Regions from separate parts of the Homo sapiens genome. Here region 1 is linked to region 2. Evidence: fine-mapped expression QTL. A gene starts in region 2. The other region holds a variant in brackets. All regions are shown on one strand. Distances are from middle to middle. Region 1 overlaps SHTN1 (shootin 1). Region 2 holds the start of SHTN1 (shootin 1).

Region 1 (15,740 bases), 55 kb before region 2:
AGACAATAAGTCACACAAATAATCAGGAATATGGATGAAAAACAGTGTTGAAAAGATTTTTCATACCAGCATACAGGTACCCTCATGCATTCCTGGTTGGCATACAAACTGATAAAACCTTTTTGGAGAGCAACTTGGCAACGTGAATCAAAAATCTAAAACTATTCATACACTTTGAATAATCCCACTTCCAGGAATGCATATGCTAAGATTGTAACACATGAGCATATACAGACATTTGGTTGCAAGGATGCTCTCTACCTCATTGCTGATAAAAGTGAAATGACATAATACTCTAACACAGAAGAATGAGTAAATTGTAGTACAAGAAATATTATTCTGCCATCAAAATTATATTGTAGAAGCATACTTAGTAAATGGAAAGACATCTGTGATGTATTTTTAAAAATAGATTGCAAAAATTAGTGCAAAGTGAATTCATTTTTGTTCTTTAAAAGCCACAGATAAAGCACATCAACAGCCATTTCACAGAATAGAAAATATACAAAAGGCCAATAAACATGTGGAAAGATGCTCATCTTCATTAGGAATCAAGGAAATGCAGAGTAAAAACACTTCTTACACCCATCCAAGAGGCAACTGGTAAAAATTTTAAAGCATGGTTTTATTAAATTTGGTATGCAGTGAAAAAAAACTGAAGATAAAATTTGACATTTGGCATGTGTCTTAAAGCAACTCTTGGACATGTGCACCAGATGACATGTCTAACATTTTTTATAACAGCATGACTCAGAATAGCAGAAATATGGAAACAGCCCAAAGTCTACCAATAGGATACTACTTAAAATAATTTTAGTGTAGTCATCTAATGGAATAGTATATAGCAGTGAAAACAAACATACCACAGCTATGCCTGTCCACATGCATGAATCTCACAAACACAAAAAGTTGCAGAAGGTTACAGGAAAAATGATTCCATTTACATAGAGTTCAAAAATATGCAAAATTAAACAATGCTGTTTAGAGATATAGACATATTTGGCAAAACTACAAATAAAAGAAAGGAAATAATAAAAATTCAAGGGAGGGGTAAGAGTAGAGAGGGATGTTCATGGGTTTGTAAGGTACCAGCAAGTATAAAGAGATTCCTTTTACTGGTATTTCCTCTGTCTTCCATATATATATAAATATATATATAAACATATTTAACAAAACATTTAATATGTATATATGTAGAGAGAGTTTTTTTTAAGATTGGAAGAATATACACTAAAATGGTACTAGTGCTTATCTCTGGATTGTAAAGGTTGAGATTTTTTTCTTTCCTTACATGAATCTAAATTTTCCACCAAAAAAAGTATACTACCTGAATATATACATTTTTATGTATAAAAATATATGTATTATATATAATATTAAATGTAAATAAATGTATAAATTATGTATATGTATATACATATGTATAAAATGTAAATATTTTATATATAAATATATAAAATGATTTATATATAAATATATAAAATGATTTATATATAAATATATAAAATGATTTATATATAAATATATAAAATGATTTATATATAAATATATAAAATGATTTATATATAAATATATAAAATGATTTATATATAAATATATAAAATGATTTATATATAAATATATAAAATGATTTATATATATAATATATATATATGTTTTATTTATTTATTTATTTATTTTTTGAGAGATGGAGTCTCACTATGTCTGTCGCCCAGGCTGGAAGGCAGTGGTGCAATCTTGGTTCACTGCAACCTCCGCCTCCTAGGTTCAAGTGATTCTCCTGCCTCAGCCTCCTGAGTAGCTGGGATTACAGGCAGGTGCGTGCCACCATATCTGGCTAATTTTTGTATTTCAGTAGAGACGAGGTTTTACCATGTTGGCCAGGCTGGTCTCAAACTCCTGATCTCAAGTAATCCGCCCACCTCAGCCTCCCAAAGTGCTGGGATTACAGGTGTGAGCCACCGCGCCTGGACATATAAGTTATTTTTAAGTGTTCTCCATATTTACAAAGGAGAGAAACAGCCTTAGATGCATTCAGAACCAAAGAATCAGAGCTTTGTACCAAGGAGTTACTGCAAGACCGAAAGCTTCAAAAGGTCCTGTCAAATAAAAGTAATATAAATTCTTTGCTATTTTCAACATTCAGTGGCCTATTTTGTTAAATAGTGATAATGACAGGACAGAGGGAGTGACGATACCATTAGATATTAGGCACAAGCTGGGCAGACAGCACACTGTCCATCCACTTCTGGTGAGTCACCTCCACCCTGAGCTGAGTCATACCAACAAAATCTTTCAAAAGGCTCTCTTAACAGCTGCCTTCACACACTGCTCCACCAGGGCACTTCAATCCTAACTGACTTAAGGACTGGTTTGCTGCGTAATGACATAGAATTTCAAACTCTGTACTCAATCTACAGCCTCTTCAGATGAAAGACTAATAAGTAAAGCAATAAGAGTGGTGATTTTTTGGTGTGAATTATAGGTCCCTGAGAGCTAAATGATTTTCAAGCCTATTTAAACAAGAAATTTCATGAAGAAAACAAAGAACACTATGACGATCTGAAGCCCAGGCAAGATAATTGACTCTCTTTTCTATGTCCAGAACACTATAATAAAAAGGGAATTTTCACGTGTCCTGGCCCTTCTGACTTGGAATCTGAAAGAAATCAGGTTGGTCCTAGTCAGGTATTTATTTATATAATTTTTCTCTCTTCCTAGACAGGGGACTCTCTGAAGGCAAGATCTACATGATTAATCCTTGCAGAACCCTTTTCCTAGCACAGTGAATCAAGACTGAAAATTCTACACCATTTCTATCTTTAAATACAGAAAGACTTGGAGAAATGTTACAATCCAGCATATTGCCCACATTTAACTACAAGGTCCTTTATTTACAAAAAAAATTCCCAGTTGATGAATCACAAAAAGATTGACAGCTACCACCAATAACAATAGGGAAGGCCCTGGGTCGCAAAGGTTTCCTGTTAGTGTTGCAGCTTCTAAACAAGGAAAGAGAGTGACTGAGGGAAAAAGAGAGAACAGAAAGTATATTAAGTTCTTCTTACCACTTCCAGAATTATTTTTGCAGAACTACACTTTGGCATCACTTCCTTGTCTTAAACTGGGAGATACATGAAACAGCCCCGATGAGAGCTGATGCTGTGTTTTATAACTAGATGGATAAAGTCACTGTTGCCCAAAGTACACAAAGTTTTCTCTGGATATAGCCACTGGAGACACTTCCCTCTCACCAGGAGAGCAGGTCTGCTTTTCCTGATCATTAGGTTCATTTTCATGTGATTCATTTAAATGATCATCAATCTCTTATTGCACTGACTGTCAGACAGCTCAGAACCAGATTTCAAACACACAGGCAGGAAATGTGCAAGACCTCAGAACAAGTATGCACTTTGTATACCAATCTAACTCTTACTTTCCTTTATCCCTTTTTCCACATCCTCTTAATTTAAAATTTCATCACATAATGTTACATGTTTTATGTAGACAGCCTAACCTCTTCTGGATTGAGATTTACTAAATAACCTACCAAACATATAAATGCTGAGGGGAGAGCTAAAAAGGCCATGATCCCTGGATATATGTAAGACAGAAATAGTATTTCGGTTTGAAGTTTCAAAATGAGTGGGTTCCTTGTTCCTCAAGTGAAATCACTTTTAGATGTCCCCAGACTCTAAGTTGGGTAATAAAACAATGGAAATGGGAGAGACACAATGCTAGAAAATCACAATATAGGAGAAGATTTTATTTACAGTCATATTTAGGCACAGGTGTAAAATGACACACAATATATGCAAACAGAACACACCGCATACGTATTTGAGAAAAAAAGACTGGACAGACTTACCTCTATTGCATTTTTCTAAGACTTTTCTCTGTTCAAGAACTTCTGAATTTAAAACAGTCTTTTCTTGTTTAACTTTATTTACCTAAAAATGTGAAATTTTGAGGGGAGAAAACACCAAAAATTGTAAAACAGGACATATGGCAATGTGTGATACTCAATTGCTGTTCAACTTTCAACATGAAGTTACAATTTAAAGCAGAAATTGGTTTCAATGTGTTAGGACTTTTTATTAAAGCTCTTCTTTAAAGCTTCAAGGATAGCTATTTAAGTTAGGATGTATACCTGGTACAGAACTTATTTATATATTCCAGTTGGCACTGGCACCTAAACATAACAGTATGCTAGCCATCCAATGTATATGATACATATTTTTTTAATTAAAAAAAAACAAAGAATATAGAGATGGGGTCTCCTATGTTGCCGAGGCTGGTCTCGAACTCCTGGGCTCAAGCAATCCTCCTGCTTCAGCCTCCCGAAGTGCTGGGATTACAGGCGTGAGCCACCATACCCAGCCATGATTCATATTTTTAATGCAAAAATCCAACTAAAGATCACCCAGAAAATACAAGAATCATTTAGTCAAGATCCGATACTCAATTTTGGTATTCATTTTAAATGTTGATTAGCATTAGGAGATATACCTAATGTAAATGACAAGTTAATGGGTGCAGCACACCAACATGGCACATGTATACATATGTAACAAACCTGCACATTGTGCACATGTGCCCTAGAACTTAAAGTATAATAATTTAAATAAAATACAATAAAATAAAAATGCTGATTATTTTTGACTTAAGTAAGATGAACATGAACTTTTAAAATAAGACTTTGAACTCTGATGACTCTTGGCTTAAATAAAACACATATAAATACTCCCACAAAAATTTAAATTTCTGAAGTAACTTTTGATGTCTATCAACGAAAGAGAATACTATAGAAAAGTTTTTTTAAAAAAAAAGAACATAAAGTAAAGCTACATATATCAAGGTAGAAGATAAATCTCAAATATATTGAATTTAGAAAGCAGGCATGTTTATAATATTTAAAAACACTCAAAATACTATGTATTGTAGTGAACATGTAAATATATGCACTGACATGATAAACACCAAGTTCAGAATAACAGTTGTTTAGGGAAACTGGGCAGGGAGCAAGGAGTATGCAACCAGAAAGAGTTACACCAGGGCTTTCATCACCATGCTAATATTCTGTGAATTAAGTTGGGTAGCAGGTATATGGATGTTCATTAAAAATAATTTTTTTAGAGACAGGGTCTCAGTCTGTCACTCAGGCTGGAGGGTGGTAATACGATCATAGCTCATTGCAGCCTGGAACTCCTGGGTTCAAGCAATCCTCCCACCTCAGCCCTCTGAGTAGCTGGGACTACAGGCACATGCCACCATGCCTGGCTAATATTTTTAAAAATTTTTTTGAGAGACGAGGTCTTGCTAGGAGGTCTTGCTGATCTCCAACTCCTGGGCTCAAGTGATCCTCCTGCCTCGGCCTCCCAAAGTGCTAGGATTACAGGCGTGAGCCACTGAACTCAGCCCCATTATTTTGTTCATTATGCCTTCTCAGATGTCTGAAATAGCCATAATAAAAATAATTGTTGAATTGTCTTCCAATAATACCTCTAAGTGGGAAGCGAGAGAATCATCAGTAAATAATCACAACTGAGGAACAGAGCACACTAAGAAACAAAGATAATGGTCCTGAAAGTGGCTCTGAATCCATCAGCACCTCCAGATAATCTATTAACTGGTTCTTTTAGTGTAGGCTTTATTTTTGGTTTTGGTTTAAATTAGTAACTGGTACACATTGTCCAACGGTAAGGTCCTTTCCAAAATATCATCTTCCTTCTTCCCATTCGTTACAATGTTTTGCCACAATAATAAAAGGAGCTCAGGCTGGGAAGTTGGCAGACACTGCTTTCCAACCTTTTTTACATCATGGCCTCCAAGAAAATGACAATATGTGTGTGCAAACTGAGGTAACTGGATGAGGCTGCTCACTGACAGGATCAATACGTTGGCATGCTCATAAGTCACTTTATCAAGCTGCAGTTGGCACATCAGTTGGGAAGTGCTGGGCTACAGAATCTAAGAACCACTGATACAAATTAAATCCAGAATCAAGACTGTGAAGGCAAATCCTTGAAGCCTCGTGCAAATAAAAGGCAATTGTGAGGGTCTTGTTCTGAAAGACAGTTCAAAAGGAAAAAGAGGCCAGGGCAGCGGCTTGCATTGGTGGTCCCAGCACTTTGGGAGGCCAAGGTGGGAAGATCATTCAAGTCCAGGAGTTCAAGGTAAGCCTGGGAAATACAGGAACCCACATCTCTATAAAAATTTTTAAAAATCAGGCAGGCGTGGTGACGCATGCCTGTACTCTCAGCTATTTGGGAGGCTGAGGCAGGAGGATCATTTGAGCCTGGGAGGTTGAGGCGGCAGTGAGCTGTGATCATGCCACTGCACTCCAGCCTGAGTGTGACAGAGTTAGGTCTTGTCTCAAACAAAACAAAACACCAGAAAAGAAAGATTCTGTAAACAACCACTTGAACCCATCCTACCACCTATCATAAATGCCTGTGTTGGAGATGCACAGAGGGACAGTCCTTCCCAATTGAACCAGTCATTCACCGGAAAAGCAAAACATGCTCTTCTTTCTCTACCAGCAGCAATAAAATATATGACTTGAAATAGTAGCTACTATTCTTACAAATTTGCCTTACATAGCAAAAACTGGGGGAACAACAGGAAACATGTCCATGCTATTTCAGAATTTTATTTATTAAGCTAGCTAGTGGGTACATGAATCTTCATCATCTTATTTCCTCTACCTTTTTTTATGTCTGAAATTGAGGAGAGAAGATTAAAATTGGTACATGGTTCTCATGTTAGAAATTGGCTTATAATATTAAGTTCTTAACTTAGCAAATCCCCAAACACCTTGAAAATGCTAAAGCCCTTGCCTTTCAGGCCTGAGATACATACTTCTTCAATTACTTCTACGAGTTTGCTCTTGAGATTTTCCAGCTCAATGGCTAAAATCTTCTTTTCCTCCTGAACAGATACAATTTGATCTCGAAGTTCTGCATTTTTAAAGAAAAAAAATATATAAATAAACTTATTTTTAAAATAAGAAATCAATCTGGTCAAAAGAATTGAAAATGCCAGTCCATGTGCAGCTTATGGTCAAGATTATTTAACAATTAAAAAGAAATGAAGAACCAAAGGACAATGAGAATCTCATTTGCGTGGCCCTCCCCAAAATAGCCATGGATATTAACAATTTTATATCAGGCAACCTCACTACATTAAATGTACCAGATCATGTTTTCTTTGCATTCTATCAAAACCACATTCTAGAAAACTATCTAGCATTTTGGAAGTAAAATTTTTTAAGTTTTCAGCAAAACAAATTAAGGTGTAGTACTAATTTCTTTTTTATTTCATAATGCCATGGGCTGTTATCACAATAAAATATAAACAATTGGGATGTTAATAATTTGGATATTTTGATTAGAAGTAAAAGATCCTGACTTGCTGCCAATTTATAGTCCTTAGACATTATTTGAACTGATTCAAAATATAACTATTTGAAAGAAGGGTTAATTCTAGTAATTTTCTCTCTAGAGTCATGGGTGTTTTGTTTTTAAATTTATTTCATAGTTTTATTATTAGGATTCAATGAAAAGTGTGTCACTAGAATGAGAGTATTATCAACTGTAAGCGCAAAAGCTTCTGGTGTTAAAGTTACTTCTGTCACTCAAATGTTTGAAAATACACATAGATTAGCACAGACTACTCAAATTCATATTCTGGCCTACTGTTTTGTCACTTAGGTTTTAACTGCCTTTAATTTCTTACTGTTTTCCAAGTGCAATAAAGAATATGTTATGTGGTTATTTGTAAATTAAATCAAACTTTTTACATAAACTCAGCTTGGAGAAGTTCTCAGAGACTTATTTCTGAATCACTTTCTCCATTTGCTGGCTAATCCAGAAAGAAGAACATGAAACCATATTG[T/C]TCAAGCTCGAACAGAAAGGAGAATAATGAGCAAAGGGAACTCCTTTAAACTTCCTCTCCCTCCCTACCAACATGAATTCTATTTTGTGTTAGCTTGAGGGGTTGAAGAGTAGGTAAAGATGGTGTCTGTAACATCCTTTCTTCTTTATACTTCCAGTTGAAATTTTATCTACCAAACAAATAAATGAATATTGCTTTTGACCTGTGTACTAAATTAAAATGTTCCAATAGTTACTGAGCCAGAACTGCTTTCCTACATCTTTAAATAAACATGTGTATGAGTAAAATGAATGTGCATTCAGTAGATGTATCATATGATCTTGCCTTACAACACTACTTGTTAACCAACAAAAAGGGGTGTCGCTAAATATATTTTTATTCATTGTTTCTTTCATTTAACAAAAATATCTTGACATATAGTACATATCCTTAAGGTTATAGTATAACTGGCTGCTTCCATTGAGACACTTTCAAAAGTGCTTAATTCCAAACAAGAAAGTAACTCATAAAGCACAATTGTTATATACCCTATGGTGATTTGGAGATATAAATAAATGATGTGGGAAGCTTTCAAAATACTGATGCCTAGGTCCTACCCCATCCAAAATTCTGATTTAATTGGCCTATGGTGTAGCAAAATTTTGGATAGGGTAGGACCCAGGCATCAGTTTTGTGTTTTGTTTTTTTTTTTTTTTTTTTTTTGAGACAGAGTCTCGCTCTGTCGCTCAGGCTGGAGTGCAACGGCGCAATCTCGGCTCACTGCAACCTCTGCCTCCTGGGTTCAAGTGATTCTCCCGCCTCAGCCTCCCAAGTAGCTGGGATTACAGGCACCTGCCACCACGCCCAGCTAATTTTTGTATTTTTTAGTAGAGACCGGGTTTCACCAGGTTGGCCAAGTTGGTCTCCAACTCCTGACCTCAGGTGATCCACCCGCCTTGGCCTCCCAAAGTGCTAGGATTACAGGCGTGAGCCACCACGCCCTGCCTAGGCATCAGTATTTTGAAAGCTTCCCACATGATTCTGATGTGCAGTCAGGGTTCAGAAGCACTATCATAACGGGGTAAAAAATATGCTCAATAATTAAGCAAAGAGTTCTACCTTTAATTTGCTTCTGACACTGTACTGAGACACAAGTCTCGGCGGCACCGTCTGTGTCTGTAGTCGAATCTTCATCATCAATGTTTATCTCTTCAGTTATTACATCTGGTCCCAGCTTGGCCATGTACAACATGCTGATTCTTTTCAACGTTTTATTTTCTTTATTTAGCTAAGACAAAATATAAAAACAGTTATTTTAAAAGCAGCCAAATGAGTATCTTGGATTTTTAAACAATAGACAAATTAAGTATATTTTTGTCTTACATATTCATCAACACTCACAGCAGGACATAACAATTAGTGGATTCATTAAATAAGGTTTTATATTAAATTTATTTCTTTAACCAAGATCTGATGTCTGGATTACAGCCAGCAGCAAGTGGAAATGCTAGTTGTAACTGATGAGAAATATAAGGAACTAAGATAAAACACCAGTACAGATTAAATAAAATTCTGATTTATAGTCATTAATAGTCTTAAAAAAGGCACTTTATTTCAAGCAAATCTTCTGCGTGCTGTGGTGCTGAGAACACCTTTTAAATGTCTGTTTGCCTAACATCTCTCTTTTCTGGACATTACCACTTTCCATTGTTCCACATGATTTCAATGGGAGTGCCATGCTCTCCCAAGCACACCCCATCCCTTTGGCCACAGCGAATTAGTCCAGGGATTAAACACATGACCCAAGTGTGACCAGTCAGATCCCCTCGCTAGAAATTTGGAGGCTGGAACAGAGCAATGAGTTTCTTTCCATGTGCCTGGACAGGAGCTGCTGGTAACCACATTCCACTATAGGATCAAGGAAAAGAGGAAGGTAGTTTTTAGAAAAGCTAAAACTGAAGCTGATGTGTAGAGAAAGGAAGAGAAAAGCAACAGAGAAAGGGTTTCCCACCAGACTCAAGCCCCAGACTCCAGTCCATTCCTAAACTGCTCCTGTCTCAGAGATTCTATGGAAGTCTCTGATATTTCTAACAGATCCCACATCATTTTCTTTTCTTGTTTAAACTAGTTCAAGATGTTGTTTCTACTATCTCTATTAAAAGAGTTCTACTTCACAGCAAAAAAAAAAAAAAAAAAAAGGAATCCTACTTTGTTAATGTATTTTTTATTCCCGGACAGGGAAATGAGTTGGTTTTTTAACTTCAGTTATTCAACTATTATCACCTTCTTTAGCTAATGTGTTTATGTACAAGAAAATTTAGGACAAAGCACACACAAAGACTAAGGATGTTCCAATGTCCACAGAAGTACAATATGGTTTTGCTCATATTTTCTCTTCCCAAGACTAAAAAATAAACAGTTTTCCTTAATTTGCGCACATCAAAGTAATCAGTAGATTATTTTCCCTACTATAAAATGTAAGTTATAGAAATGCAAATACATTTCCTTTACTAGAGCCCTTGACCAGGAAGACATGCTCTGAATTTAATAATTGATATTGGAAACAAATGAACATAGTTCATTGGAAAGATAACTACCTTTCCTCACTGTAAACCTGACACTAGAATAAGATATTTAGCATAGCACTGGTCTGACTTTGCTCTTTCATTTGTGATCATAATTAGGGTTCCTCAGGGTTTCTCATAGAGAAAGCCCAGCCCACTTTAATCTGGGAGATCTGATTTCTACCCCAATAATATGGAACCTAAAGTGGCATGGTCTGGAGCACGAGAGGTTTGTCTGACCTCTTTGGAGAATCAGGAAGAATCTCTAAGAAATGGTTATGAACTCTTCCATGGATTCTTCCTGGAAGACTGGCAAGCTCTATTCAGGAAATCAGACACAACCCTTTATCCTCAGTCCCAGTCTCCAACTCTAGCTTCTGTCTGCACACATTACATTAGGAGATCAAGATAAAAGATGAGGCCCATCATTTCCCAACACCTCTTCCTTAAGTTGGAAAATTCAGATAAAAACTGTTGTGGGTTCTTTAAACCATGAATGCTACAGCATGGCACACGAAGCTCAAGGACCCTCACTTGTCAATTCTCAAACTATCCCATCTTTTAGGAATGTCAGAAGAAAACATCAATTTAAGGAAAAAGTGAAGACATTTAAGACTTAATTTCTGGTTCTGTATCCTAATATTTAAACTAATGGTTCTCAACTCTGGCCATCAGAATCTCTGGAGAGCTTTTTAAAAACCTCAATGCTTAGGCGCTATGCCATACCCAAATCTCTGGCAGTGAAGCCCAGCATAGCCCTTTTTCAGTTTCCCAGGTGATTCTAATGTACATCAACACTAAGAATCATTGATGTAAAGAAACGCATTGCTTTAGTATACAACCCAGCTCTGCAATAAAATTCCATCTCTGCCTCTACAACTAACCTAATCCTTATGTTTCAGTTTTCTCATCAGTAAACTAAGAATTAAGATAGTCTGTATCCCACAATATGATGACTAAATGAGACATTATATATAAAGTATTTAATATAGTAACTGCCACACAGTAAAACTTCAGTGTTAGTTATTCATAGTAAGAAGAGGTTTAGTTTGTGTCTAATTATCCTTTGGAAATCATTTATCAGCTAGTTTTCTTCAAAGTATTCATTTAGGCATTTTCTCCTTCCTCCAGGATACTCAAGAAACTACTAGTTTCTGTCATCTAGTGCTTAATATATTACTTCTTAGACAACCACTACAATAATACCTTAGCAACATCATAGCTAACAGTTCTGCCCTCAAAAGGGTTTAATGCCCCTATCAAACCAGGCACCAAAATCCACCAGTTTGTCTGCAATACAATTACTCTACTTAACAAAGTCACCAGCTCAAGAAAAAAAAGCCAATCAGAAAATTTCATAATCCTTCTCTGAAACCCCATTTTCGCATTTTGAAAGAAGAAATGTAAGATTTATATATATGAGGGTTTTTTTTGTTTTGTTTTTTTGGAGATGGGTTCTTGCTCTGTCACCCAGGTTAGAGTGCAGTGGTATGATCATAGCTCACCACAGCCTCAAAGTCTCAAACTCCTGAGCTCAAGTGACCCTCCCACCTTGTCCTTCCAAAGCACTGGGATTACAGGAGTGAGCCACCACACCCGGCCTAGACATGAGGTCTTATGTGCATACTATTTGAACATTTTTGAGAATTCTGAATTCACAAATTTTGGCTAAGTAATTTCATTGTAGCTATTCATCAAGCTATAGGTTAATTGCATGCTACTTGTTGTTTGGAACCCCTCTATGTCTAAGGCAAAAATATATCTTTTTACTTTTTTTTTTTTTTTTTTGAGATGGAGTCTCTCTGTCACCAGGTTGGAGTAGAGCTGCGTGATTTCAGCTCACTGCAACCTCTGACTCCCTGGTTCAAGCGATTCTCCTGCCTCAGCCTCCCGAGTAACTGCGATTACAGGCACACACCACCACGCCCAGCTAAGCTTTGCATTTTTAGTAGAGACGGGGTTTCACCATGTTTGCCAGGATGGTCTCAATCTCCTGACCTCAGGTGATCTGCCCACCTCAGCCTCCCAAAGTGCTGGGATTACAGGCGTGAGCCACCGTGCCCAGCCAAAAATATATCTTTTATAACCCTACAGTAACAGAACCTACTATTATATTCAAATGTAAATAGGGTTTTTATATTGTCCAGTTTAGTGGCTATTTAAAGGTACAAAACAAGCAAGTTTAATGGCTTTGGATCATATGACTTAAATAACTGGTCCACATTTATCAGTTTAATCTACACATTTTAGCAAAGCAAAGTATCCATACTTGCTTCTAAGAAAATATGAGGAACTGGGCGCAGTGGCTCACGCCTGTAATCCCAGCACTTTGGGAGGCTAAGGCGGGCAGGTCACCTGAGGTCAGGAGTTTGAGACCAGCCTGGTCAACACAGTGAAACACTGTCTCTACTAAAAACACAGAAATTAACTGGGTGTGGTGGCACATGCCTGTAATCCCAGCTACTCGGGAGACTGAGGCAGGAGAATTGCTTGAATCTGGGAGGTGGAGGTTGCAGTGAGCCAAGATGGCATCACGGCACTCCAGCCTGGACAACAGAGCAGGACTCCATTTCAAAAAGAAAAAAAAGAAAATTACGAGGTCAAGCTGCATCATCAGAATTAAACATTCCATTTGTCATTAATTTGATGGCAAAAATTTAGAAAAATAAGAATTTATAGAAACTTTGCTCTCAGGAAAAAAAATGAGCATTTTTGAAAGCCTCCTTTCAAAAATGACAATTGATACTTAAATCAGAATGAAGTCACACATATAATGAAGTTTCCACATTTTGCATTCAAAGCAGTCTTTCACAACAAACAAGCACATTTATAGTATTTGATTTAATCCATTTTTTAAATTTTTTTCTAGGCCCCATGAGTTCATACTATATCTTCAAAAATAAACTATATGTTCATTTTAAAAAAGGGTTTTTAAAGAACAGGCAACAAACAGTGTTAGGTAAGGATCCTATTATTAAGACTTAATTGTAAAAATGAGCTTAGAGATTAGGTAACACTGGTTCGTAACGAGCAATGAATATAACAGTCACCAGGCAGCTTTTCTACATGCACATGCCTGGGCCACACATCTAGAGCCAATGGATCTGGGGTATTATGATGAAGCCAACCATGGTCCATCCTGGCATTTAGAGCAAGACAACTGTAGCTCAGAGAGGTGAGTTCTCTTGCCCAAAAACACCTATTAAATAAAAGGGGAGACAGAATAAAGTAATTTTTTAAAAGGGGCCATATGCAAATAAATTATTAACTCCAGTCCTAACTCTAGTCCATCATGTCATTTAAGATGAGATACTACACTCCAGAGAACAAAATTAACTTGTCCAAAATCACATATGCCCAAAATTACATAACCAGGAACAAAACCTGTATATACTGTCCCACAAACCAGTGCCTTCCATAAACTCTGCCAATCCTGAAAGGTAGCCAGTATCCTCACTCTGGATGTGCTATGACAACAGGAATACTTGTTAATAACAAGAAAAAATAGAGAGTATATCCTTAGACACTAGAAGATTCAGAGCAGCTAGCAGGCTCCAAATGTACTTTTTCTCTACTTATTCCAAAGAAAGAAATTCAAAAATGAAAATAGAATTCACACAACATTACGGACTAGTGAACTCTAGGAATGTGCCGCAGAGTAAAAATGATGTGAGAATACCCATGTTATCATTTTTTAAAAAGTGTTTTTAAAGTGTATTGCTGTGTATTCTTCAGATGAATAACAGGAGAGAAGTTACATACCCAAATTTATATTCTTAGTTAGGTCCTGATTAAATATCTTATGAATTCTAATGTAGTGTTGTTATGCAAACAATTAAGCAAATACCTCTAGGAAGCACACTGTTAATGCATACAAATTACATTTATTTATGTATTTATTGAGAGTAGGATTTCAGTCACATCCAAAGAAATTTTCGGAGGTGGGTGATGGAGGGGAGGGAAAAGAAACACAACCAGTATTACTAATGAAATTTGGTTGAAAATTGCTGTAATCCACTTTCTGATGAAGTGGTTCAGATGCATTTTACCCAACCCAAAATACATAAGACAGAGATAAAAAAAACATTCTTTAATAATAATGTACTTCTGATGAGATAGAATGTAGAAAATTACACACTTGGTAAATTCATCAGCAAGAGGCAATCAGTGGAACACTGGAGGTCACCTTCAGCATGCCCTCGCTTTGCTTTCATAAATAATCACCTGAAATGCACGGCTTCAGGGTGACTTTTTCATCTGATTCAAATATGAGACATTCACTGCTCTTTTATGTCACACCAGGTTAGTTTTAAACTTGGTTAGCATTTTAACCAAATGCATGGACATTTGCAAAGTCCCCTTTAACACTACTCTGGGACCATTTTTTCCACATTTTCACAGGCAAAAAGCACAAATGCTGAAATACTCACATACAAATGCTCCTTTTACAATTTGGAATAACCTTTGCATTAAGGTGAATATTTACATAATCATATTCCAGGATTCTGAGGCCTTTTAACATTTCCCTCATCATCAGAGTAGATAATCGATTAGAGAAGTAGAAAAGCAAAACCAGATAGAAGCCACTGCTTAGAAAAGCAAGTTGAAATTTAAAAGCTCAGGTAAAATTCCTTCATTTGAAGTCTCACCTTTGTTGCCAAAGCTTCAGCACTTTCTCGACAAGTCTTCTCTATTTCAAGATGGTTCTGCATGAAATTAACTTCCTCTATGACCATGTGAGAAACTAGGAATGAGGGGGAAAAAAAATCTCAGCATTCAAAGATTAGTCAGCTATTCCAGGAGCCCACGCATCGTCCCATGATTAAGAATACTTCAATTCTTTGGCTAGCCAGACCTTTAGCTATCACTGAAAAAAGGTTTTTGAGAAGCTGCCCTGATTAAATCTGAGCTAATATTTGAATGTAGAAAGAAACAAGAACACAACAAAATACATTCATTTCACATACATACATTTTATTATGTACATTTTAAGAGCGCTATTTAGATTTTTTTACAAGTCTATTTTCTATGCAACTATATATGTATCCATAGACATATGTGCTAGTTTAAACAAAAGAATATTTCATAAATAAAGAGGAGTGACAGCATGACTTCTTTTTCTCAGCAGTGTATAACACATGGCTCTAATAAGAAAAATTAACAAAAAATAAAAGAAAAATAAATCTTAAATTGATCTTATGACTGGAGTAGTGATGTGGCGACTTGGCTAAGTACTGCAACATTTGTCTCTATTAGCTACAAAGTAGTTACTGCTATTTCATAAGTAACTCTCAGGCAGAA
Region 2 (15,740 bases):
AAAGAGGTTTAAAATTGCTTTAAAACCAATTACCTCACCATAGGAAATCCATTTTAAATACTGTTAGCCCAAAAATTGCCCATTATTGGGGTGGTGGTGGTTGTTTTCCTCTTATGTATGTCCTTATTATTAAATAGCCATCTCTCTTCAAAATTTCATCAACTTGGAAATGACATGGCATTACTACACTGAACAGTTTAGCAGACATGTGTTGTCTGTGTCTGCCCGGTCAGCATCCTCATGGTAGTGCACCCCATTCTGTTTTGGACTATTCCTCCAATCTTTGCAGGGGCTGCCAATTAAAGTATCCTGCCCTCCCGTGGCCAAAGTATTTGAATACATGAGATTGGCCAAACTAGGCCAATCAGACACTCCTCCTGGAATTTACATGCCTAGCACTATCTCTAGACCAGGAACTCCTCACCAGCAGAGGCAAGGTCTTATTCAGCTCTATCTCTCTGATGCCTAGCACAGTGCCTGGCTATGAATATTCAATGCATGTGGGCTGAATGAATTATACAGAAAATCATGCACCTTAAACAAATGCTGAACTAAGTCTATCATTTTCCCACTGAATTCCGGAGGGGGAGCAAATTGTATGATGTTTTGTAAGGGAAATATCCACTTTAGTAGCTAGGAAATATGCCTCGGAAATAGTATCCAAAGTTGCCATTTCTCGGTGCATTAAAGATGTCAATCAGTCCAATAAAATAAAGCCCCAAAAAAGACAAAAGGAGAATTACCTCATTACCTCAACATCTGCTTGAACATAAGCAATCACACACTGGCTAATTTTTTTTAAAGGGACATAATATAACTTTCTGGAAAGACATAATATAGCTAATTATACCATTCACTAGGAGGGAACATAAAATGTTTTGAAGTAATTCAGAAGTGGGTGTGATTTATAAGACATAGAGCTTAGGGAATGGTAAGTATAAATTAGAGATTGTTCATATTATGACAGACTCCGTCATTACATTTCACAACTTTTGTCAAAAGCAACCTTATTCACCACACCACTAAAGGCTTCACGTTAGGGAAGGCTGCTGTCAGCTTTGTGGTTTAGAGTAGACAGGAATCTCCTTTCTGAACACTCTCCTGGGGAACTGGTTCAAGTTTTAGACTTAAAACTTACTAAGGCAGGGCAAAATGAAGAGAGATTGTTTAATGGGTTCAAACATAGTTAGATACAAGGAGTAAGTTTTAACATTTTGATAGCAAAGTAGGGTGACTACAGTTAACAACAATGTATTATATATTTCAAAAGAGATAGAAGAGAGGACTTGAAATGTTCTCAACTCATTGAAATGATAAATACTGGAGGTAATGGATATCCCAAATACCCTGACTTGATCATTATGCATTCTAAGCATGTAACAAAATACCCCATGTCTTCTATAAATATGTACAAGTCTCATGTATCAGTTTAAAAAAAAATCACTAAGGAAGGACCCATATGATGAAACCTAAATGGCCAATGGCCATGTAAAAAGATTTCAAACATCACTAATAACCAGAGCAATGCAAATCTTAAAAGGTAACATTCTGCCCATTAGATTGGCAAAAATTCAAAAACTTGTCAGGCCATCAAATGAATAAAGATTGCTATTAGCCAGAGTTGACCAATGTGTGGGGAAATGGGTACTGCTGAAGGATATCTGAACTGGTATAATCATTTTGGAGGGCACTTTTGCAATGTCTAGCAAAAGTAAATGTCCGTGCCCTCTAATCCAACAATTCCATTTCTTCTAAGAATCTATCCTAGAATAAAAAAGTAATTGTACATTTATTCATATGATAACTTGAATAGTACCTGTCTTCTCTTCTAGAAAATTAATTTGGTGACAAGGACTGTGTAGTTCACTATTTACACCCCTAGTGCCTACCACATGGACCTGACATATGGTGGTACTTGATAAGTATTTGTTGAAGGAATGAATAAATATGTTTACTCAGCATTATTAAGGGAAAATAACATATTTGATAAATAGTGGTTCTTCTTGCTCACACTAAATAGGGGTAGTGGAATTATCACTCAGAATATTAACATTGTGAGTAAAAAGGTAGTAACAGGTAGTAAAAATTACTATTTTCAAAAATAAACCATGCAACCATCAGCTTACAAAATTGATCATAGTATGTACTGTTAAATGCTCAAAGACCCAGTTACCTGTTCTTCCAAATCCCTAGCTTCCCAATTAGTTCTACAGGTCAAACAGTAACTGAACACTTTTGAAGTAAATTGTTTCCACAGTCTGTGATCCAATGACAAGCAAACTACCTGGTTTTGAAATGTATAAAAATCACACTGTGGGCTGAAAAAATCCCAACACCTTTGTAACTAGACTCACTATCCCCAAAAGTGTACCTTTTAAGAAACACAACTTTGAATATCTAACTGTTCTATTACCTTTCATATGCACTTAATCAAGGAAATATATCCTCTAAAAATACCAATGCCAAGGATTTGTTTATTTTCCAATACAATGCAATAGGAGAAAGAGCCACAAATATAGAAATCCTTTTTGTCAGGCCTCAAACCCAACATAGGAATGGAGAATGTGTTCCGAAATCAAATATAAGCAATTTGCAGATTATCTACATTGTTAATCGACCCTTGATTATACAAGAAATGAAAGGGAAAATTTTTTTATGTTTATCATTATTCGAAAACTGACCAACCATAAGAAGATCTGATATCCACTGACAGATATTACCTATAATGAAAGCTCCACAAATCTAGAATATGAATCAAGTTTTAATGTTTTGGGTTGGGCGAAGGTGTATTAAATATAAAATACCAGTCAGTAGAATCCAGTCCCTCGCTAAAACACTTGAGAAACTTCAGATAAAGGCATTCTGTCCACCCACTAAATTCACTGATGCTTGTGACTTTATGACCTCAGGCTAATCTAGGATGCCAGGTAAAGGTGCTGGGAAGGCCAAAGAGACTAACATTTATCCAGCACTTTCTAGATGCTGGATATCACAGAAGAATGTGTTATGTCCATTTCAGAGGTTAAATAATTTCCCCAGGGTCACACAGTAAACAGTAATGTTGAAATTTGTTTGCCAGAGTGTGGCTTCAGAGGAATCCGGGAGCACTTCCCAACGGTGTCTGTGGTTTTACGCAACAACAGGTAAGAGTACTGGACAGGACCTCAGAAAGTCCTCCAGTTTCACCCTCGCCTTTAGTCAGGTCGGCCTTGATTGACCAGAAGATCCACGGAAGGAAAGAGACTCCTCCAAGTTCACAGAGCAGGTGAGCTGGGCCAAGAGAAGTGAAAGAGCTGCAACTAAATACCAGGTTTTGCCACAGAGCAGGGATCCTTCCATTACATGGTCTTGTCAGCAAGACATTCAGAAAAGTACATGTTCCTACACATTTTTACTTCCTTTAAATCTGTATGGTTCCTCCCTTTATTTCTTTATTATTTATTATTATTATTTTTTTTTGGAGATGGAGTTTCGTTCTTGTTGCCCAGGCTGGAGTGCAACGGCGCCATCTTGGCTCACCGCAACCTCCGCCTCCTGGCGATTCTCCTGCCTCAGCCTCCCGGGTAGCTGGGATTACAGGCATGCACCACCACGCCCGGCTAATTTTGTATTTTTAGTAGAGATAGGGGTTCTCCATGTTGGTTAGGCTGGTCTCGAACTCCTGACCTTAGGTGATCCACCTGCCTCGGCCTCCCAAATTGCTGAGATTACAGGCGTGAGCCACCGCACCCGGCTGGTTCCTCCCTGTCTTGACCCACATTCGCAGACCACCCTTTGGTCAGGGTAATAATGATAAGTGTTTAAATGTGATAGGTTAGCATTTGGTTGTTGATCTGGTTTGGTTCAGAAGTGTGGTAACTGATGAAAAAAATGATTGACTGAAGCAGGTCTTTATTAAAGGATAATCCCCAGTTACCAAGCAGTACAGAAATGCGTGCGCATGGCCTGGCTCTCCTTCGCCCAGCGTCAACCCTGTTAATTCTGAAAGCTCAACACTGGCAGGATGTTGACCTTGCTGACTAATAAACTGCTAAAATTGAGAAGTGATTAAAAAAAAAATTATGGCCTGAAAATCCCAGCTGGGCAAGGAAAGAGGAACTAGACCGAATCCAAACGAAAAGCTGGGAAGGGTGTGAAACAGCCCTACAGGCCACCCAGCGCCAACAAATGTGTAAGGGTGGGGCCAAGCTAGCTGAGCCGCCCAAAGCAGCCAAAATATCCTGCCCCACCCGCTTCTCCGGCAAGGAAGGTGGCACTGTGCAACCTCGTCCGCACTGAATCCTCGTCCCTTCCCCCAGCCCCCGATCGCCAGCAAACGCAACCAGCGGGCAGCGGGTCTCGAGCTGCGGGGCCTGACTAGCCCCGACACTCCGCGTTATCCTCGGTCCAGAGCTTTCCCAGGCGCGCCGGCCACGGAGGACGCTTCTCTGCGGGTGACGGAGCTACTGCGGTGACCACGGCGGCCGCCACGTCTCCCGCCCGGCTTCCAACTGCCCTGGCCCCAGCGCCCTGGGGCCGTCCCCGCCCACGGGCCGCGGCTGCCCACACCTGGCGCCCGCGTGCTGCCTACCTTGCTCCTTCAGACTGGTAATGAGCTGCAGCTGCTTCTCTTCGTCCGAGCTGTTCATTTTGGCGGGTGGGGCCGGGAATAAAAGGGAAAGAGGGAGCGGCGCGGGGCACACAGGAGGAGGGGGAAGAAAAAGCAAGATGCCGGTGGCTTGCGGCTCCACTACCCGGAAGTTGGATCCGCTCCCGCTCCTCCTCCTCCTGGCGCGGAGCGCGCGAGTGAGATCATCCCCACGCACCTACTCGGCGGCTGCGGCCGCTTCACCTGCAGGCGGGGCGGGGCGGGCCCAGCAGTCCCGTTCAGGGGGTGGAGGAACGAGGGCGGGTCGGCAGCCGCTATGCCAGCCTGTGGCTGCCGGCGCGGCAGGACGCGCTGGTGGGAGGGGGGGCGGCCCTGCGTGGGGTCGCTCCGCACCCTTTTCTCCGCCTCCACCTCCCGGACTCAGGGACGCGAGTTCAGAGAAAACCGGCTGTGGGTTCGCAGCGTGTGTGGGAACTCCACTTTGGACGCTTCCCGGGGGTCGCTCCCAAAGAACCACAGAGGTAGAGCGGGACGCAATGAGCCATGAACGCCTGGGCTTCTTCCCTAGTTTTCCCGCAGTAGACTCTGGGGGCGCGGTTGCAAAACCTAGCTGCCCACAGGGGCGGGCCCAGGGTGGTACATTTTGCACCTTGAAGAGGAGACAAGGATCGAATCAGGCCGCCCAGCTACTTAAATGACCATGCCGTGAGTGAAGGAGGGCCCTGGCTAGCTTTCCCCCATCGCACCAGGTTTGCCAGGTGGTCAGAACGTGGACCCTGCTGCACGTGGATGGTGGGGCCTGGAGGGCCCTTGCAGATCATCTGGTTGGTGGCGGGATGACCTTCCCTTTAGAGAGGGTGCCACTGCAGTCCGAATGCCGAAGGTCACGCAGCCCCCGGGCAGCAGAGGCTGGCAGTTAAGCCAAGCGTTTGTCCCAGTTCACTGCCCTCTGAACTATTTGAACTCATGTCTGTGTTAGACCATGCCCAGGAGAGAAGTGGCAGGTCTGCATTGTTTCAAAGGTGCTTCTCCCCAACCCCTAGTTGCGAGCTAACCTTTGGTCAAGTCTCCTGCATCTTTGAACTTCATCTGAAGAATAGGAAGAATAGTGATACCTACTCTCAAGGAAGAGTTGTAAGGATTTAATAGAGGAAGATTAACAAAACACCAAGTCCAGAATTTATAATGCAGTTTTTTTTTGTTTTTTTTTTGTTTTTTTGTTTTTAATAAAGATTACAGGTCTGTGGCCGGGCACAGTGGCTCACGCCTGTAATCCCAGCACTTTGGGAGGCCAAGGCGGGCAGATCACGAGGTCAGGAGATCGAGACCATCCTGGCTAACACGGTGAAACCCCGTCTCTACTAAAAATACAAAAAATTAGCCGGGCGTGGTGGCAGGCGCCTGTAGTCCCACCTACTCGGGAAGCTGAGGCAGGAGAATGGCGTGAACCCGGGAGGCGGAGCTTGCAGTGAGCCGAGATCGCGCCACTGCACTCCAGCCTGGGTGACAGAGTGAGACTCCGTCTCAAAAAAAAAAAAAAAAAAAAATTACAGGTCTGTGAGAAAGGGGTTGTGGTTGCTGACTATAAGCTGAAGGTTGCAGTTCTTTTACACTGATCATTAAGCATGGGAGATAAGTCCAAACTGAATTAGACTTATTGCACAGCTTGGTTTTTCTCACTACCTCTAAGCTCTTAGTTTGGGTACAGCAACAGCACAGTGCTGCTCATTCCTCAATTGCTGTTTTATGGAAGTGCCCAGCTCCATTTCTTGTGTTCATTTCTCCATGATAGTTGTAGAGTGAGGTTGAGATATGGGTAAATCCTGTAACTAGTGTCTTTCTGATACTCACTACATGCTAACTAAAATTTTGAAAAAAAAAATGGTAGCACTGCTTTCTCTTTCTCTAAAATGGCAATATAGTACTTTAGCATGAGTGATTTAGGGGTAGAATGATCTAAAAGGGCAGCATAGTATTTTTTAATACAGTGTATTAAAATGTTTAAAGTTTAAAAATAATTTTGATATGGGATTGTATTATTCAGCCCTTTCCCTAGGTATGCGTAAGATAATTCAAGATAGTTGCAGATAGCTGCCATGAAGATCCCCAGGAGATAATAATAAAAAAATCCGGGAGATTTTAATGAAAAATAATGGACATTTAGCTTTTGTCCAGCAGTTGGGAAACCTGTTAAACCTGATGAGTCATCCTGACTCATTCTCTCTCACTCTACCAAATACAAGCAGAGTGCCCATTAAATATTTGGCTTAGTTCACAAAGTTCCATTTTTTTTTAATGGCTGATTTGTCTACTCCAATTATACAGTAGTTAGATAGTATTTCTGGAGTTTAAGAATGAGTTAATTATCAAATCTATAATCAAACTTTTGGTTCCATACTAAATCTGCGGCCTCTTGCAATTAATCCCATTTATCCTCCTTAAAATTAGAAAAGGCTCCTGAGCTGAGATTCTGCCACTGCACTGCAGCCTGGGTGACAGAGTGAGACTCCATCTCAAAAAAAAAAAAAAAAAAAAAAAAAACTCCTGAAATACAATATGGCATTCACTTGAGGACATGGTATGAATTATTAGGAGGGCTATTAGAGTCCTTATTGGGATTCAGTTCTCCCATTACACTATTGTTTATTTATATGATATGAATATTGATGGAAAGGATAGAAGTGATAAATTAGTTTTTGTTCCGTTTAATAATATACAGAGTGATGGCTATGGGAGGCCGAGGCGGGCAGATCACGAGGTCAGGAGATTGAGACCATCCTGGCTAACACGGTGAAACCCTGTCTCTACTAAAAATAAAAAAAGCTGGGTGTGGTGGCGGGCACCTGTAGTCCCAGCTACTCGGGAGGCTGAGGCAGGAGAATCACTTGAACCCGAGAGGCGAAGGTTGCAGTGAGCCGAGATCATGCCACTGCACTCCAGCCTGGGTGACAGAGCGAGACTCCATCTCAATAATAATAATATACATAGTGATTTATGTTGCAGGCATCACGTTGGAGTTACTATTGACCTCCAAATAACAGGTCATTTAAAACCCTTAAAAATGTGTGTGTTTACATATATATATACAAATATATACATAGAGATAAAGGACAGACTTTTAAAAAATGAATTGGAAGAATATGTGCCAAACTCAGGATAATGGCTGTCTCTAGGGATAGAAAGTAGGGGAACAGGACCAAGGTGTGGGGGTTGGAGTGTGAAAGTGCAGTGGTCAAGAAGGAGTTTCTCTTTAATCTTTATTTAATTTTTCAGGTAATTAAAGTAAAATCACATATGTCATCTTTTGAGGTATACAGATAAATAAGATTGAAATACAATGAGGAGAAGAAGGTTCACTGTCTTTGATCCACTAATTCTATATCAGGGAATCTATCCTAAAAGGCTTATGTACAGAGCTATTTAATGTAATGTTAATTATCATATGAAAATGGCAATATTGGAATATTATTTGGTAATAAAAATAAAGTACTGATATATGGTACAACACAGATGAAATTTGAAAACATTATACTCAGTGAAAACTTGATCAGAAAAGACCAGATATTGTATGATTGCACTTGTATAAAATGATCACAACAGGCAAATCCATAGAGGGAGAAAGTTGATTGGTGAGTATCTACTGAGGTGGGGTGAAAGTAGGGGAGGTCTGGGAGAAAACAGGGAATGGCTGCTGATAGGTGTGTGGTTAATTGTTGGGGTAATACAAATTTTCTAAAATTAATTGTGGTAATGGTTGTACAATTCTCTGAATATACTCAAAACTATAGAATTGGCCGGGCGCTGTGGCTCACGCCTGTAATCCCAGTACTCTGGGAGGCCAGGGCGGGTGGATCACCGGAGGTCAGGAGTTTGAGACCAGCCTGACCAATATGAAGAAACCCAATCTCTATTAAAAATATAAAAAATAAGCTGGGCGTGGTGGCACATGCCTGTAATCCCAGCTACTCAGGAGGCTGAGGCAGGAGAATCACTTGAACTCAGGAGGAGGAGGTTGCAATGAGCCGAGATCGTGCCATTGCACTCCAGCCTGGGCAACAAGAGCAAAATTCTGTCTCAAAAAAAAGAAAAGAAAAGAAAATATCAACCAAATATGCACAAAAGGAAAGGAGAAAGAAGTCAAAATGATTACCAAAAACATACACATTTTTTTAAAAACTAAGTATAAAATAAGGCAATAATGAAGCAAATGAAGAGCAAAAGAGCTATAAGACATATAGATAATACATAGCAAAATTGCAGAAATAAGTCATTTCTTATTAACTGTAACTTTAAATGAAGATGGCTTAAACTCTCCAAAAGGCAAACACTGGCAGGATGCAAAAAAAAGTATGATCTAACTATATGATGTCTACAAAATATTTATTTTAGATCCAAAGACAACAATAGATTTAAAGCAAAATGGTAGGAAAAAATTTAATTAGTAACCAAAAGAGAGTTGGGGTGGTTATATTAATATCAGACAAAACAGACTTTAAGTCAAAAACTGTTACAATAAACAAAAGTCTATATTCACAAAAGGGTTGATTCGGTAAGAATATATAATTACTATAAACATATATACAAGCTGGGCACGGTGGCTCAAGCCCGTAATCCCAGCACTTTGGGAGGCCGAGACGGGCAGATCACGAGGTCAGGAGATTGAGACCATCCTGGCTAACACTGTGAAACCCCGTCTCTACTAAAAATACAAAAAATTAGCCGGGCGTGGTGGCGGGCGCCTGTAGTCCCAGCTACTGGGAGGCTGAGGCAGGAGAATGGCATGAACCCGGAAGGCGGAGCTTGCAATGAGCCGAGATCGCGCCACTGCACTCCAGCCTGGGCGACAGAGTGAGACTGTCTCAAAAAAAAGGAAAAGAAAAAAAAAACTTATGGAATACCGTGAAGACAGTGCTCAGAGAGAAATTTATAGTTCTAATTACTACATTATAAAAGAAAGATACAAAATCAATAAGGTAACTGTACACCTTGAGAAAATAGACAAGCAAAATAAACCTAAAGTTAGCAGAAGGAATAAAATAATGAAGATTAGAGTGGAGATAAAATAAAAGACAATAGAAAAATAATAGAATTAATAAAAAGCTATTTCTTTGAAAGTATCAAAATTGACAATCCTTTCCCTAAATTAACGAAGAAAAAAAAGAAATATGAAAATCAGATATTAAAATGGGGACAGTAATACCAATGATTCAGAAATAAAAAGGATTCTAAGAGAATAATAAGAACAATTATATGTCAACAAATTAAATAACCTAGAAGAAATGGACAAATTCCCAGAAACACACAAGTCACCTAAACTAACTGAAAAAGAAAATTTCAGCAGAACTATTATAAGTAGAGTAATTCAGAAAGTATTAAAAAAAGAAAAGAAAAGAAAAGAAAGACACCCTTCAATGAAAATAAGTTCAGGCCCAGATGTCTTTCCTGGTGAATTCTATCAAACATTTAAAGAATTAACACCAGTCTTTCTCAAACTTTTCTAAAACACAAAAAAGGAGAGAACACTTCCTAACTCATTCTATGAGGCCAGCATTTCTGTGATACCAAAGCCAGATAAGGATATCACAAAGAAAAGAAATGTACACACCAATTTCTCTTATGAATATGGTTGCAAAAATCCTCAACAAAATACTAACAAACCAAATCCAACAACACATTAAAAGGATTATACACCACGACCAGGTAGTACTTATTCCAGGAATGCAAAAGTGGTTCAACATAAGAAAATCAATCAATGTAATATGTCACATTAATAGGAAAAAAACCAGGTGATCATCTCAATTGAGACAGAAAAGGCATTTGACAAAAGTCAGCATCGTTTCACCATAAAAACTCTTAGCAAACCAGTAATAGATGGAACATCCTCACCATGATAAAGGGCATCTGTAAAGAAGCCACAGCTATAATCATGGTCAATGGTGAAAGACTGAAAGCTTTCCCCCTGAAATTAGGAACGAGACAAGAATATGTGCTTTCATCACTGCTATTCAACAGTGTGCTGCAAGTTCAATTAGACAAGAAAAAGAAAGAAAAGGCATCCAAGTTGGAAAGGAGGACGTAAAGCTATCTCTATTCACATATGACATATAGCTATATAGAGAAAATCCCAAATAATCTGTGAAAAAGCTACTAGAGCTAATAGATGAATTCAGTAGTTTTAGCTGAATTTAGCTCTTAAGTTTAGGTCTTTGGTCCATTTTTAGTTAATTTTTGTTAGGCCTTTTCTACCTTCATACCAACTTCAGTCTTTTGCATGTGGATATCTACTTTTCCCAATACCACTTGTTAAATGGCTGTCCTTTCCCCATTGAGTGGTCTTGGTACCCTTGTTGAAAATCAACTGGTGATATACATGAGGATTTATTTTGGGGCTCTCTATTTTATTCTATTAGTCAATATGTCTGTCCTTATGCCAGTACCATCTCTATTCATAGATGGCAAAATTTCCTATGTGGAAAATACCAAAGAATTTCTTTAAATGCTTCTAAAACAAATACTTGAGTTTAGTGAGGTTACAGGATACAAGGTCAATAAGCCCTTGAAAAGATGCTCAACATCATTAGTCATTAGACAAATGCAAAAGTCAACTGTATTCCATACACCAGCAATGAACAATTAGAATTTGACATTAAAAATTAATAACATTTACAATAGCACTAAAAATACTGAAGCACTTAGGTATAAATCTAGCAAAATATGTGAAAGATCTAGATGCCAAAAAGTATAAAATGCTGATGAAAAAAATCAAAGAGTATCTAAATAAATGGAGAGATATATTATGTTCATGAATTAGAAAACTCAGGCGGGGCGCGGTGGCTCACGCCTGTAATCCCAGCACTTTGGGAGGCCGAGGAGGGCGGATCACGAAGTCAGGAGATCGAGACAATCCTGGCTAACACGGTGAAACCCTGTCTCTAATAAAAATACAAAAAATTAGCCAGGCGTGGTGGCGGGGCCTGTAGTCCCAGCTACTCCGGAGGCTGAGGCAGGAGAATGGCGTGAACCCGGGAGGTGGAGCTTGCAGTGAGCCGAGATCGCGCCACTGCATTCCAGCCTGGGCGACAGAATGAGACTCCATCTCAAAAAAAAAAAAAAAGAGAAAAAGGAAAAAAAACCCTCAATATTGCTAAAATGTCAATTCTTCCAAATTTAACCTATAGATCCAATGCAATCCCAATCCAAATCCAAGCTGATCATAAAATGTATTATGGAAAGGCAAAAAACAAAACAAAACAAAAACTAGAATAGCCAAAACAATTCTGAATAAGAACAAAGTTGGAGGACTCACGCTACCTGATTTCCAAGACTAACTATAAAGCTACAATAATTAAGACAATGTAGTATTGGCAAAAGGAAGATGCATTAACCATCCCAAAAGTTGATCCACACAAATATAGTGAATCACTTTTTTTCTGCAAAGTAACAAAACCAATTCAATGGGAAAAAAAAAGTCTTTTCAAAACTTGGTGCTAGATCAACTGGACATCCTTTCTTTTTTTTATAAAAAGGAGCCGCAACACATGCCTCATAGAAAAATTAACTCAAAATGGATAATAGACCAAAATGTAAAACCTGAAACAGTAAAACTTTAAAAATGAGACACAAGAGAAAAAACCGTGTAACCTAAAGTCTGGCAATTAGTTTTTAAATACGATGCCAAAAGCGTAATCAATAAAAGAATTGATAAATTAGATTTTATGAAAGATAAAAGAAACAGATTAACAATACCTGCCATAGATGAGGGAAAATATTTACAAATTACATATTAATTCACATTTTAAAAATCACATATTAATATTTTGTATCACACATTAAATAAATCACATATTAATATTTTGTATTCTAAATATTTAAAGTACTCTTAAAACTCCAACAATAAGAGCCAATGTAGTGGCTTGTGCCTGTAATTTCAGCTCTTCAGAAGGCTGAGCTGGAGGATTTTGAGCCTAGAAGTTTAAGGCTGCAGTGAACCACTGCATTCCAGCTTGGGCAACAGAACAAGACCCCATCTCTAAAAACTATATAAATTTTTTTAAAAATAAATATTAAAATAAGTCAAAAGTAAAAAAGATTAATTGGCAAAATATATAAACAGATACTTTACCAAAAGAAGTTTATTTATTTATTTATTTTTTGAGACTGAGTCTTGCTCTGTGTCCCAGGCTGGAGTGCAGTGGTACCATCTCGGCTCACTGCAACCTCTGCCTCCCTGGTTCAAGTGATTCTCCTGCCTCAGCCTCCCCAGTAGCTGGGCTACAGGCACCCGCCACCACGCCCACCTAATTTTTGTATTTTTAGTAGAGACAGGGTTTCACTATGTTGGCCAGGCTGATCTCAAACTCTTGATCTCAGGTGATCTGCCCACCTCGGCCTCCCAAAGTGCTGGGATTACAGGAATAAGCCACCATGCCTGGCCCAGAAAAATATTTTTAAATGGAAAATAAGCACATGAAAAGATGCTCAACATTATTTGTCACTAGTGAAATGCAAGTTAAAACAACAATGATATAATACTATGTATCTATTAGGATGGCTAAAATAAAAAAGGAACAATCCCAAATGCTGAGAAAGACACAGAGCAACAGTAACCCTCTTTAATTGCAGGTAGCTATTTTAAATGGTACAGCCGCTTTGAAAGACAACTTAGCAGTTCCTTATAAAATTAGAAATACATTTGCCATACAACTTGGTGGTTCCACTCCCGGGGCTTACCCAAATGAGCGGAAAACTTATGTTCACAGAAAAACCCATATACAAATGTTTATAACAGCTTTATTAATAATCACCAATAACTGGAAAAAGCCAAGATGTCCCTCAATAGGTGAATGAACAAATATATATATCTTCCAAATATGTGTGTGTGTATATATATATTTTTTTTCCATAAAATGGAATATATACATCAATTTTAAAAGAATGAGCTACTGAGTGGATACAGTGTATACAGATCTTGAATGCATTCTGTTAAATTTAATAATCCAGACCCAGAAGGCTATATACAATATGGTTCAATTTATATGACATCATGAAAAGGCAAAACTATAAAAATAAGAAACAGATCATGGCTACCAGGGGTTGAGGACGAATGGAAGGGTTGAATATAAAGGGGGAATACAAGGGAATTTTTAGGGTGATAGAATTATTCTGTATGGTACAGGGGTGTTGGATAGATGACTCAATGCACTTGTCAAAATCCAAAGAGGTATACATCCCAAAAATGGACTTTGCTGCATGCAAATTTAATAACAAGTCAGCCAAGATAGGGAAATCCCAGGATAGAATGCAGAAAATGACAAATAAATCGAACCATATTACTAATATATGACATTACCTTACTGAAGGGGAAGGGATGGGGGAAAGGATCTGACTTAAGAAACTTTGGATAACTGTACTTTGACTGGACACCGTAAGGCTGAAGACAAAAGGAACCATACATCAGCACCCTTCTAGCTGGCAAATCTACCTCTCTCTAGAGTATGGGTTAGCAATTCTCAAACTACTCTACATGTAGGGTAGGGTTGAATAAATAAGTAAATCAACTGTAGATAATGGGAGGCAGGTTTCTCACCATAAGAGAAAGAAGTTACAGTCAGTTCTGCTACAACACAACTTATGTGTTCTTAAAAATTATTATGCTGTGCAAAATTGTACAATAAAAACCATAGGTCTCATGGGAAAAATGAAGCTAGTAGCACAACATTTAAAAACTTATTCAGTGAAAGATTAGAACAAAAATAGGAACCTAATTTTAAAATAGTACCATAGTTTTATATAAGAAATGATTAAGAAATGCATAATGCTACAATCAATGTGGTATTTTAGTTTTAAAACACCTAAAGTTTGTGAACATAGGCATCATAAAGGCTACAGCTTTTGAGTTACTGCAAAGTGATGGAAGAAGGGTTATTTGAAATCCAATGGGAAAGTTGTAACAGCACATGTGGATGGGTGTGGCTCATTATCCTTGGTTTTGTGGTTGGATTCAAACATCACAGTACTTTCAAAGTCTTAAATCCTGAGGCATTTTTTTTTTCCCTGACTGATTTGCAGGTCCTTCAAGGAAGGCATTTGTAACAGATATCTGTTTCATCTAAGTTAGAATTTCAATCCAATAAATGGCCTTCTTCTTAATTAACTTCTGTGTCACTGTTGGACTTCTTTGCTACTTTCTCAGCTGTACTTGCCTTTCCCAGCTGGACTCTGGCTCTGCTGACAGCTGAAGGCTTTGGAAATTGTAGTAATTTTTTTTGTTTGTTTTGGTTTTTTGTTTTTGTTGTTGTTTGTTTGTTTTAAGATGGAGTTTTGCTCTTGTCACCCAGGCTGGAGTGCAATGGCACGATCTCAGCTCCCCACAACCTGTGCCTCCCAGGTTCAAGCGATTCTCCTGCTTCAGCCTCCTGAGTAGCTGGGATTACAGGCATGCACCACCACGCCTGGCTAATTTTGTATTTTTAGTACAGACGGGATTTCTCCATGTTGGTCAGGCTGGTCTCGAACTTCCAACCTCAGGTAATTCGCCTGCCTCAGCCTCCCAAAGTGCTGGGATTACAGGCGTGAGCCACCGTGCCCGGCCTGTAGTAATGTTTGAAACCACAAATCCAGCCACTATCTACACTAAATGGAACCACTTCTGCAAGATGTGGCAATTTCTTTGAAAGTCTTCATATACAGTGCTTTCTTTCTGATTGTAGGAAAAAATGTTCCTGTTTGGTTTTCAATTCAAATGCTCAACAATCTTTCTATTTCTTCTAATTCTTCAGGCTGTGTTCCTATTGACTCTATAGCATTTGAAGTTAAGCCATCATAGATGTTTCTTTTGTTTTCACGGTATTGTTCTTCAAGGTCCTCAATGTGGATTCCTTTATGCTTGAAAGATGTTATGCTATTTTGTTTTTTGATAAACACTTCATTATTTCAAGTTTCTCCTCAATACCTAAAGCTTTCTTTTTGCATTCACTGCTTAGCATTTTTGAACCACACATTTAGATGTGTTTGAGGTATATATATTTCTCACTGCTTCACAAATGTGAAAGAATAGCATTCTTATACAGATTCACAAATGTAAACAAATAGCACTCTTACACAGGTTCAAAAATGTAAAAGAATGGCATTCTTTTACAGGTTCACAAATGTA

Evidence for each region.
Region 1: its variant is fine-mapped to the expression of SHTN1 in whole blood (TOPMed, PIP above 0.99). The same link has a PIP of 0.9 or more in T cells, blood mononuclear cells, lung and monocytes.

What each region holds. Positions count from the first base shown.
Region 1 is chr10:116,945,048-116,960,787 of GRCh38, forward strand. SHTN1 (shootin 1) reads right to left here. Exons shown (of 17, transcript NM_001127211.3): 4 at 15,089-15,183; 5 at 8,995-9,163; 6 at 6,862-6,959; 7 at 3,869-3,950. Among named protein-coding and RNA genes, the nearest start is that of SHTN1, 52 kb to the right of the region's middle. The variant T/C (reference allele first, on the strand shown) is at 7,897.
Region 2 is chr10:117,000,452-117,016,191 of GRCh38, forward strand. It overlaps SHTN1 (shootin 1), which reads right to left and starts at 4,736. Exons shown (of 17, transcript NM_001127211.3): 1 at 4,571-4,736. The coding sequence starts at 4,628. RefSeq lists an enhancer at 3,819-4,512 and silencers at 4,327-4,621, 4,493-4,602, 4,833-4,912.